3 linked regions of the Homo sapiens genome follow. The protein of the gene in region 2 purifies or fractionates together with the protein of the main gene of each other region. This does not show direct contact. Each region holds a gene or a part of one and is shown on either strand. Other genes may lie near its edges.

Region 1 (3,653 bases), on a different chromosome or scaffold from region 2:
ATAGATTGTGAAGCTCAGAAGGCACAGTAATCTGTGTTGTGCAAACCCTTATCAACTCCATTGGGGATGGCAGCATGTTCAAGAGGCTGAAAAACAGCCAGCAAGTGAGACATGAGGTTTCATTGAGGACCTACGTACAGGGCAGAGAGTCCGGGGGTAGAGGGCTGGGCAAGAGAACTGCAACCGCTTGCAAAAGGCATGCAGTTTATAAAGCATCTTCACTTAGTACTCTCCCACTGACAACCTCCACCTGGCAACCTTCATTTAATCCAAAAACAAAGGGCCTCAATCCCCTCTACGGCCCGTGTTCCACGGGACCGACCTGGGTGTCAGGTCTTCCTCATAGACAAGGAATGGATCTCTGGGCTGGCCACTCCCAGATTCCGTAGCTCAGATTTCCCAGCCACATTGGGGTGTGTGTGCCACCCAGGGTCATTTTGGGGTATGCTGATGTTATCGCTCTCAGGTGTATTTACTTCATAATTTGAAAGGCAAAGTGCTTTTGATTTGAAAAAGCAGGACCCCAGAGTGAAAGAAATTGTTTATCTTTTTAAGTTCCAAAAAGCACTGGTTTGGAAAAATCACAAAACAAGTCATGGAGGCCTAGAACGTAGCATTTACTGACTGAACTATAGGGTTTAGAAAGCATGCCATCCAACTACCTTTAGGGGAAAGAGGGCTTTTGTTACTTCCCAGGCAAAACATCACAAGACTGCAGCTCAATCAGGGGCTGGAGCAATGAGATGCCTGGGTGGAAACTGGCAACAGCTAAGGAAAATCTAGGTAGATAAGCCTGAGGGCAATCACAGAAACCTGAATACCCAGCCTGTGCGTGTCTGAGTCCTAACAGTGGCTCAGAAGCATTTGCTAAAAGGGGACTGAAAGAGGCTAACAGAGGACGAAGAGGGCCCAGGACACAGGGAAATTTTGAGCAGAGGTCACTACACAGACAATGGAACGAGCCACAGAAGCTTGAGCAATGCCCCAAAGGCCACAAGGGACTGAGCTACCCTTTAGTCTGAAGCCAATAATAGCAGATGATGGGTGTGAGCCAGATATCTCTTCCCAGTCGCTGGACAACAGGTAAACCCCTTTCTATTTCATTCCTTGGGAGGGTAGCTACACAGGGTGGAGAAAAAGAGTCTTTTTTCTGAGATGGAGTCTCGCCCTGTTGCCCAGGCTGGAGTGCAGTGGCGCGATATCGGCTCACTGCAACCTCTGCCTCCTGGGTTCAAGCAGTTCTCCTGCCTCAGCTGCCTGCGTAGCTGGGACTACAGGTGCATGCTACCACGGCTGGCTGAGGGGTCTTGAATCTGAATAAATACTTACCTAAATAAGACTAAATCTAAACATAGAAGTGATTGCAAGATCATCATTTTCTACCATGGTGGAAATGGAGGCTTTGAAAGCTAAATGGAATTCATTTCTAGAAAAATGAAGAAAGTTACATGTCTGATTCCTGAATTTGGCCTGCAGCTTTCAATCAACTGTAATAAGAGAATCTAGTCGCCTGCCTCTAAGGCAGTTTCTTCTCTGTAGGTCCTGGGATCTTGCTATGAAGTTAAAAAGGCTTCTTTGAATGGCATTCTTTTTGCTAGAGGATGAGGATCAGGGAAAAATGTTATAGAATCATGAATCACAAGATATCCATATTCCTATTTGAGAGACAGAATTGGCGCCAGAACCCAGGTCTACCAAGATGCATGGATGAACTCTGAAAGCCTCAAGACTCTTGAGGGATAAATTCAACCAAGCAGCATTGACGGGCCTGCCTTAGTAAAGAACATTTACTTCAGAGACAAGACGCACAGCACTGACATGTCTGATTATTATAATTTGCATCAGACTCAGCAAAGTTGTTGACTAGCACATGGCCTCAAGTGAATATTTCTGATTAAGGGAAGAAAAAGACATAATTAAGAGGTAATCGGCTGATGTGGTGGCTCACACCTGTAATCCCACCACTTTGGGAGGCTGAGGTGGGCAGATCACGAGGTCAAGAGATTGAGACCATCTTGGCCAACATGGTAAAACCCCATCTCTACTAAAACTACAAAAATGAGCTGAGTGTGGTGGCACACGCCTGTAGTCCCAGCTACTTGGGAGGCTGAGGCAGGAGGACCGCTTGAACCCAGGAGGTGGAAGTTGCAGTGGGCTGAGATCGTGCCACTGCACTCCAGCCTGAGGGCAGAGTAAGACTCCGTCTCAGAAAAAAAAAGGAAAAGAAAAAAAGAGGTAATCAATTACTAACATTGCACAGACTTTAGCTTCCTTTTCCCTTCCTGCTGCTTTTAAATTTTTTCTCCCTGAAGGGAGTATTCCTGGGGAGAAAAGTTGACTCATGCCTCTGTCCTTCCTGGCTCTCATTTGGGACGTGTTTAGCCTTGGAAGGAAGTCAAAGGACTGGCTATGTGATGGATACATCCTCTATTTCCTTTGCCTCATCAAAGGCACAGCCTTTCTGTCAATTTTCCTGGTACTAAGGGTGGGAAGGAGACCTATGACTACCATAATAAATAGCAGTAACTTTCTAATTGTTTACCTAAAATGCAACCCAGGAGTTGAATTTCATTAATCACCCTGACATTTTTGGGGTAGGAATTACATAAGGGACCTAGATTTTTGAATTATTTTAAATTTGGATATATTATGTATACAAACCTCTCCCCAGTAATAACAACTAACCACCATTGATTAGCATAATGTAACCTAAGAAAATAAATTTAACTAGATGTTCTTGAAATTGCCACAGGTAGGAAGCATTAGTATACGATATAATACCAAATCCACTTTGAGCCCACTATGACGTCTCCATTAGTGTCATAAAAGGTTTATGGCAAATTTATAAGAATATGTTGCGGTATCCTTTTTGTCTAATCCCAGAGGAGAGAAGAAAGCCAAAGGCCTGAAATTAATGATGTATATTTAGGCAGTCAGCTTACTGGATGCTGCCCCAAACCAAAAAATAGCTCTACATATGGAAAATTCCCAATCAGGGGAGGGGCTAGTGGAAAGAGACAAGGTTTTTATAAGTAGTTGAAACTGTCATTTAACTATTAATGACTTCTAAGTATTTATTGAAACCATCTTAAACATAAAAGTGAAAATCAAACCCTAAAACCAAGAAGTCTGATGTTCTCTGCTAAAAAACCTGGACAGTGAAATAATCTTTTAAGACAAATCAATGTCTTCATATAGCATGCACAATACATAAATTACCTGTGCCTCATGGCTTTCCATGTGCCTTCAATGTGAATTAGGTAAATCAAGAATAGTTATGGTTCCTATCATGAACCAGTTCTTTTTTTCTCCACTTTAAAATGTTCAGTCTATCTTTGGAAAACCACAAAATATGGCTGGAAGAGATACATATATTTTTTGAGACAGTCTCACTCTGTCGCCCAGGTTAGAGCTCAGTGGCTCGATCTTGGCTCAGTGCAGCCTCCGCCTCCCGGGTTCAGGTGATTCTTGTGCCTCAGCCTCTAGAGTAACTGGGACTACAGGCATGCATCACCATGCCCAGCTAATTTTTGTATTATTAGTAGAGACGGGGTTTTACCATGTTGGCCAGGCTGGTCTCGAACTCCTGACCTCAACTGATCCACCCACCTCGGCCTCCTAAATACTGATGAGATTACAGGCATGAGCCACCA
Region 2 (3,653 bases):
GTTTGTTAATGTGGTTAATTAAACTGGTTGATATTTGAATATTAAGCCACATATGAGAAAAAACATATTTAGTAGTGATGTATTATTCTTTGAATGTATTGCTGGATTCAGTTTGCTAAAATTTTAATTAGAATATTTGTGTCTAAGTTCATGGGGGATATGGACGTGTAGTTTTCCTTTCTTTTCTTGTAATGTCCTTGTCTGGTTTTGGTATGAAAGTAATGCGGGCTCTATAGAATGCAATGGAAGTGCCACCTTCCCTCTGGCTCTGGCACAGAGCAGGTGCCTGTTTCATGGGTGATTTGAAGTAGGGAACAATAAATTCATGTGAAATAAACAAGCAAAGACCTTACTGAAAGTGTAATATAATGAACAAACCATTAGGATACACTCTGTCATCAATAAGATCTAAGCATTATTCACATTCCTTGTCTACTTAATCTACACCACAGCCTGTGAGATGGGAATTCCTGACGGTTCTTCACCTGAGAGGTGGTATTTCAAGATCACTTAGCCAGATGGAGTGAGAGCAAACTAAATGTAATGTCAGCCTTCTTCCCTCCCAGCTCAGGGCAGCCATGACACCTGACTCCCATGTGGACAGGCCAGTCCCCCTTCATCTGGAAGCCACCTTGGCCGGCTGCTGCGGGACTTTGGATCTGGGAGAGAGACCTTAATATCCCTAAAGAAGAATGTGGGATGTGATTCATCCTACATTTCACCCCTGGGGAGGAAGGGCGTGGTTGCCTGTGAGGAGGACTCACTGTTGCTTGTCTCTGGGATTGCAGAGGCCCTTTGCCAAGAGGCCTCTTTCTCTGATTCCTGGGTGACTGGGCAGATGACTATGGGAGTTCCATTTTGCTCATTATAGGACGGATACTCAATGTAGGGCCTCAATAAGCCTTCAAACCGACATGTCAGGGTATAAATAAGGGACTGGTCATTTATGTTGAAGAAGGAGATGGTCCCACACTCATAGTCCAGGAAGACCCCTATTTTTGTAGGTGGGGTCCTGGGGAAGACGCTGATAAAACGGGGATTTAATGTGAAATACAAATGTTCTCCATTCAGTCTGAGGACCCAGTACCCATGATCGGGAGACAAAGTCACGTACTCCTTCCTCCTGTCCACATCATCCCGGCACACTCCCACGCGCCACCTTTTATTGTGTCCTCCGTCCACCTCCCAGTAATGTTTCCCTGCTTGGAAACTCTGAGAAGCCACCACACTCTTCCTTGTAAATCTCTTCTCAGAGTGAGGCACCTCCTGGGGAGCTTTTCTATGGGTTACAGTTTTCAGATCAGAAACGCAGAGCTTCGGGTGAGCCGTCTCTGGATCCAGAGTCACCTCCACTGGGGTGCGGTGGGGGAGAGAGGAAGCATGAGTTACTGAAGACGAAATCTGGGCTGGAGCAAGAGGTCGACCCTCCCACTGCAGACTGGCTCTGGGTGGCATAGGTGAGGCCCCGGACCTGAGCCTCCCGCAGACACTGCCTTTCAGGTCCTCTCATCACCAGTGCAGCCTGGAGGACTCATCAATGTCTAGATATGTCTCAATATGACGTCCCAATCTCGGCATATCACCCAACCCTGCCACTGTCCCTTCATACATAAAACTATTTGATTCATAAGAGCTGGAGGGACCCCACTATCTAACTTCCTCCCACTCAGAATTTTCTGCCTGACTTTACTTCCTTCCCCTCAGCTCAGACCCCTGACCAGTCACTAGTGCCCTCAATTCCCTGAAACTGTGCCAAAGACCCCCCCGTCTCCCGTTTACCCAGCCCCTGTCTTCTCCCCTTCTAGACCAAGGGAAAGAAGTGTGTCTGGGGGCACTGAACCCTTGGGGGCGATCAAGCATCCAGTTTCTCCATCTGCAGGCAGGATGGGTCTCAGCATCACTCTGTGTTCCCGTATCTGTCCCTGTTCAGTTCCCCCTCTCATGTCCACCTGAGATTCTGTCCCACTGTCACCCTCTCAGGCGTTGGTACCTGCGTGTTTCCGGGCGTCTCTCAATTCTGAAAGCAAGCAGACAGAGCAGGCAGTTCAGTGCTCACGTGGGAAACAGGGCGCAGGGAGAAGGGAAAGACCAAGGATTGGGACCCTTTTTGAGTGTTGTGGACCCTCCAGAGATCCGAAGAAGGCTATGGGGCTTCTCTACAAAATGCACCTCCCCCAGAATCTGCAATTTCAGAGTTCCCATCACAAGCTTGGCTCTGCAGGGACCCACGGGCCTCAGGATATAAAAATCCATAAACGAGAGACTTGGAAAGGAGTCATAAATGTGTGAAGAGGAATATTTTCTTTTACCTGCCTGTCCGTGCTTTCTTCTCCAGTCTGAAAAACAAAAACAAAAACAAAAAACATGTAAGAGGCTGACGTCACAGAGCGGGGGCCCAGGGAGGGCGTGGGAGGGAATCCCTGCGAGTGGTAACACTCTCACCCAGTTTATCCTGGAGTTCCCACAAAACAAAAAGCAGACTATTTAGTGGTTGATACAGAACTGGATAAAGTCTCAAAGCATCAGGCCAGGGGAGGTCGAGGATCACCCACAAATTTTTCTCAGGTTCCTCACTGTGGCCCAGACACCCTCAGAGCTCATGATCAACACCTTCCCCCACCACACACACAGCAAACCAACGGGCAACAGGCACAGACAATTTGTGGGGACTTCCAGGCCCCGGGGCCTATCCTAAGCCCTCCAGATGTCCGAGGGGTAACTCATGAGCAGTGGATGGAGAGAGCGAGCAGCTGCTCTCCTCCACCTGCCGGTGCTTCCTGTCCAGCCTGCAGCCAGGGTCGTCCAGAGGCTCAAACTGTGGATCAGGGAGGGACCCGGGAGAACCATGTGTGGGAGGCTCAGGACATGACACATACTTACCCAGTTCCGCCTGGATTTTCCCTGAAACAGAAACAGTATATTCAGTGGTGGACACAGGAGTGTACAAGGCACAAACACGACGCTGGCTCCTTGCACAGGTGGGACGAGCTGCAGGTGTGAAGGGCAGGGCCTCTCCTAGGACACTTATATGTGCTCGTCTCCCCAGCTCCTGCACGGAGTGTGGCTCTCTGGGGTGGAGCAAGAGATCAGGAAGGTGCATGCTAAGGAGAGGGACAACAGCTGGGATGCTGTGGAGGTGGGGATGGAGATGGGAGAAGGCAGCTGGGAGGGGAGGCGGGGGTGGCCTCACCCCCAAGGGGAAGTGTCACTCCCAAGGAGGAGGAAATTGGTTTTGGGGGTGAAAAGTCTTATTGAGACTGAATATAATTTTATCTTATTGTCAGTCACTTTTGCTTCCTCCTTTATGAATTTGTTCACCACATTAAAACTTTTTAATAGGAGTCTTGGTGGTGTTCATGGAAAATTATCCAAGCTCTCTCTATAGGTACTGAAAATCATTCATCCCCTTATTATTTGACCTAAATGAAGTAGCAAGGGGCTGTCGTAGTTGATATTTCCAGAGGAAGAGATGTTAGAATACCCTAGAGAAGGATGATTACTTTTTTGGGCCTGGGCCCCTGGAGGCTAGGACTAGAAGAAGAGAAGCAGCTGGATGTGGGAGCATCTCTGATCCTGTCCCTGCTGGAACCATGAATAAGGCACCGGCCCATGCTTCTCTCTCTCGCTTACACTGGAATTTGGAGAAGAAAATC
Region 3 (3,653 bases), on a different chromosome or scaffold from region 2:
CACAGACCAGGAGCCGATCCTAGAGAAGATGCATGTTTATAACTGGTCTATTGTTCACCTCATTCTACCAACAGATTTGTTCTGTCTTGCTAAGGAGGGTATCAGGAAGGAGAGGTGGGAATCTTTAAAAAAAAAAAAAAAAACTATACTTTAAAACTCTCCCTAAATATCTCTATAAATCAAAAGACAAAAAAAACAAAAAAAAAAACTCAAAACAAGAAACAGCTTGTACATCAACACTAAGGCCCTTCAGTCTCAAATCACAACTAGCACCATCTGCAAGATGTTTACACTCCTATAACTTAAGTCCTCAAATACAATTCCAAGTTATTTTTACTAACTTCTAGTCAGTTCTTTCATAAAAGAATCAGAATCTTCCAATTTTTCCTATGGGTGCTGTGATGATCGAACAATGTTATTTGAAAAAAAAAAAAAAAAACCCTTGCGGAAGTACAAGCTACTAGATAATAAAGGGGCATTATTTACAGTACCCCAGGTGTTTCTGGAGGGTTCTTAACAATTTTAAGTCATTCTGTTAATGATCATCCTCTCTATAGAATATGATGCCTTTACAGAACTAATTATTCCATTGACAAATGCTAATTTTCCTCACTATTTCCCATCCCCCAAACTAGAGATCTACAGAAAGCCTAAGGGCAAAATACTTACCTGCTTTTGATTTTCCCATGAAATAATGCATGCCACAATGTGCTATCACTTCAAAACCCAGACTCCCTTCCTAGATTGAAAAGTAATATATGAATAACTTAAAACACAGCACTAAACATAAAAATTCTAATGCACTAAAATTCAAAGCAGACATTGGTCTGCACCTCAGTGAACTTCCCTTTAACCACGAGCCAAAAATTACTTTCTAATTGTTAAGGAATTTTCAGAGAAATCTGAACTGTCTCTCCCTAGGAGGGTCACTGAGTGGCTTCTGCAGGCACAATAATCAATGACAATAATGACCCTTGGGCCCACAAGACACCAAACTGCCATCTGAATTAAATAAAGATTATGATCACATGGCTGCACTGAAGCCTGGGCAACAGAGTGAGACCCTAACTGTAAAAAAAATTAAAAATTAAAAAAAAAAGATTAGATTAGTCTCAGGACATTCTCAGTGGTCAGAAGTTTTGTTTTTTTTTAATTGAACTCTAATCCTCTGGGAAACAGTATGCCAATCTATAACAACTCCTAGCTATTCAGGACATTTAATTTCCCATTTCCTACAGGTATACCTGAAACCTGCCTGCTCCTCCCACACTCTGCTGACATGCATCTCTTGAATAGAAAAAAAATTTCTAAGAAACCACCCCTGCTCAAAATATGGATAAATGGAATTAACCTTACATTGTTTAATTTTAGAATTCCTATCTGTACGCTTACAGCTAGTTAAGCATGAGGCATTTCTAACTATGAAAGATCCACACTATAAGTGAGAAAAAAAATAAAGATGGTTGCATGAATGTTGCATAGAAAAACCAGAACCCAGAGTTATACAAAATAGCTTGGAGCAAAAAGAAGCAAAAATAATAACCAAATGAAAAGAAATAAATATTAAAGAAAGAGACATATTTAAGACGGTCTAAATTAAATATAATTTACCCAGATTTTAGAAAGCATTTTCTTAACTGTGAATCTTTTCAGGCTTTATACTTGGCCCACTAAGCAAATTCAAGGATTACGAGCAACTAAGAGTCACTTAGAAGAGATCCAAATAAAGCATTTAACAATTTAATTTATTAAGTCATTGCAAGTATGTACTAAAAGCCAACCTGTGTTTTCTATAGCAAACACATACTGGTTGCTCTACAAATTTTGGAAATAAATGAAAATGACATCTATTAATCTATTGGTCATGCCTTATTTCATTCAAGAACTTCAAATTACTTTATAAAAAAGAAAACTCTTTCCAAATAAAGATTTTTATGTCTGAACAATTTATCATCCAAGACTGGCCTGGTAATATCCTTCAGTTTCTTAGCCTTAAAGAACGTGAGCTTAACCCAGTTAATAAAACTCAAGCACTAAAGGTTAATAAAAAGCAACAGTAATTAAGAAAACTGTAACACACATATAGTATTGTAGAAAATACCTTGGTTGGTGCTGAATAAATCTGTAGAGGTATTGCAAAAATGGCACCTATGTTTGTAGTCAAAAATACATTGGTGAATAGATTTATGGCAATGTCTTTAACAGCAAGTTTCAAAGAAAATATATTCCAACAGCCTGGAGGTAGAAATAAAGGGCCAGTGAAATTCAGAATCTAAAAAGAAAAGAAGCAAGAGAAATTACTTTTCCTAACACTAATTATGATTAAAATCATTATAAAGTATGATGCTAACATTCTTCTATACTTCAGAAAGTATGATTTTACTCAGTTATTTCCAGATCAAAAGTTGGAATATTTTTATAGAAATGATAGGTTACAAATAATGCTTAAGATGACACTGTTTTAAATTTCACAAAAGTAATCTTGAAATTTCAGTAAGTGATATTTTGCAAAAAACCTACTATTTTATCATGAACCAGGCTCATTTTTACTAATCTTTTTAGAACAATACATATACATAATATTTTTGAATAATGGTAAGAGCAAATAATTTTGAAAGGCTATATCCTGGTCCCTTTGAGCTCTTTTAAAAACAGTTTTTTAAAAAGAGAGAAAGAGAAGTCTCCTAAAAGTAATTCTGAAAATGTTAAAAGAAAAATACATGTTTTAAAAATCATAAAATTTTATATAAATAATAACTTCATAGCATTTGGAATATTTTTTATTATTTTATAGAAATAATTTCACAGCATCTGACCTTAAACAAAGCTTAAAATAAGCTAAAACTTGGGGAAAAAATACTATATGTACCTTTAACATGTGCTTGGTCTCCTTGGAAAGAAACACATCATTTAATACAACACTACGGTCAAAATGGTTGCGGTACCATATTGACCAAAGTCCTGATGTGTTCTCATGAGTCTCTATGTGAAACTGGGTTGCAGAAGAGTCCATTCTAAAATACCTGTGAACAGACGACATGCATGCTATCAGGCCTGAGTGTGGGACAACAGTCAGCCCTCTTATGAGCCTCTAATTGCAAAAACAGGAGCATCATAAAACGTTACTAAATGAAAGCTAGCGCCAGAGACAACCTCGGCAATCGCCTCCTTCAACCTTCTGGCTCACATAGGGAGCAACTGGAAGCCCGAGGGGAAGCAACCAGGCTGCGGCCAGCACAGCTCACAGAGGCCGCCAGGACCAAACCAGAACCTGAAGCCAACTCAGAAACACCATGTGAATATGTACTCTTTTCACACATCTGGATGCCTGATGCTGAACCTATTTCATAAACTGAATTATTTCACTTCCTTTTCCCCACTCAGCTAATATCCCTTTCACTGCCTGTTAGCAATGCTAAGGCAAGGGGAGGCAAGGCCAGTGAGAGAGAGAATCACACAAATCATATCACTATATTTTTAAACCATTTCTAGAGGGGAAAACAACAACAACAACCATACAAGATTTCAGGGAAAGTGGAAGTAACCTACCCCTGAGCCACAGAAGAGAAGAGGCATGCTTTTAGTGTTGGAGTGTGTGTTGTTTTCTTCACATCTTCTATAATTCCACTGTCACATGATGTAGCTGCTTTGTG

Evidence for each region.
Region 1: the proteins of BTNL8 (region 2) and ITGA8 purify together in Homo sapiens (affinity purification with mass spectrometry; 3 studies listed by BioGRID and IntAct, with this or other methods). This does not show direct contact.
Region 3: the proteins of BTNL8 (region 2) and TMEM131L purify together in Homo sapiens (affinity purification with mass spectrometry; 3 studies listed by BioGRID and IntAct, with this or other methods). This does not show direct contact.

The regions. Positions count from the first base shown.
Region 1 is NC_000010.11:15,639,920-15,643,572, forward strand, and holds part of ITGA8 (integrin alpha-8 isoform 1 preproprotein), read right to left. Parts: intron 1-3,653. UniProt on the Homo sapiens protein: Integrin alpha-8/beta-1 functions in the genesis of kidney and probably of other organs by regulating the recruitment of mesenchymal cells into epithelial structures.
Region 2 is NC_000005.10:180,947,603-180,951,255, reverse strand, and holds the end of BTNL8 (butyrophilin-like protein 8 isoform 2 precursor), read right to left. Parts: coding exon 3,631-3,653; coding exon of another isoform or gene 3,501-3,630; intron 2,902-3,500; coding exon 2,881-2,901; intron 2,337-2,880; coding exon 2,310-2,336; intron 2,018-2,309; coding exon 1,991-2,017; intron 1,353-1,990; coding exon 712-1,352; 3' UTR 350-711; downstream 1-349.
Region 3 is NC_000004.12:153,584,828-153,588,480, reverse strand, and holds part of TMEM131L (transmembrane protein 131-like isoform 1 precursor), read right to left. Parts: intron 3,647-3,653; coding exon 3,550-3,646; intron 3,024-3,549; coding exon 2,870-3,023; intron 2,273-2,869; coding exon 2,102-2,272; intron 740-2,101; coding exon 670-739; intron 1-669.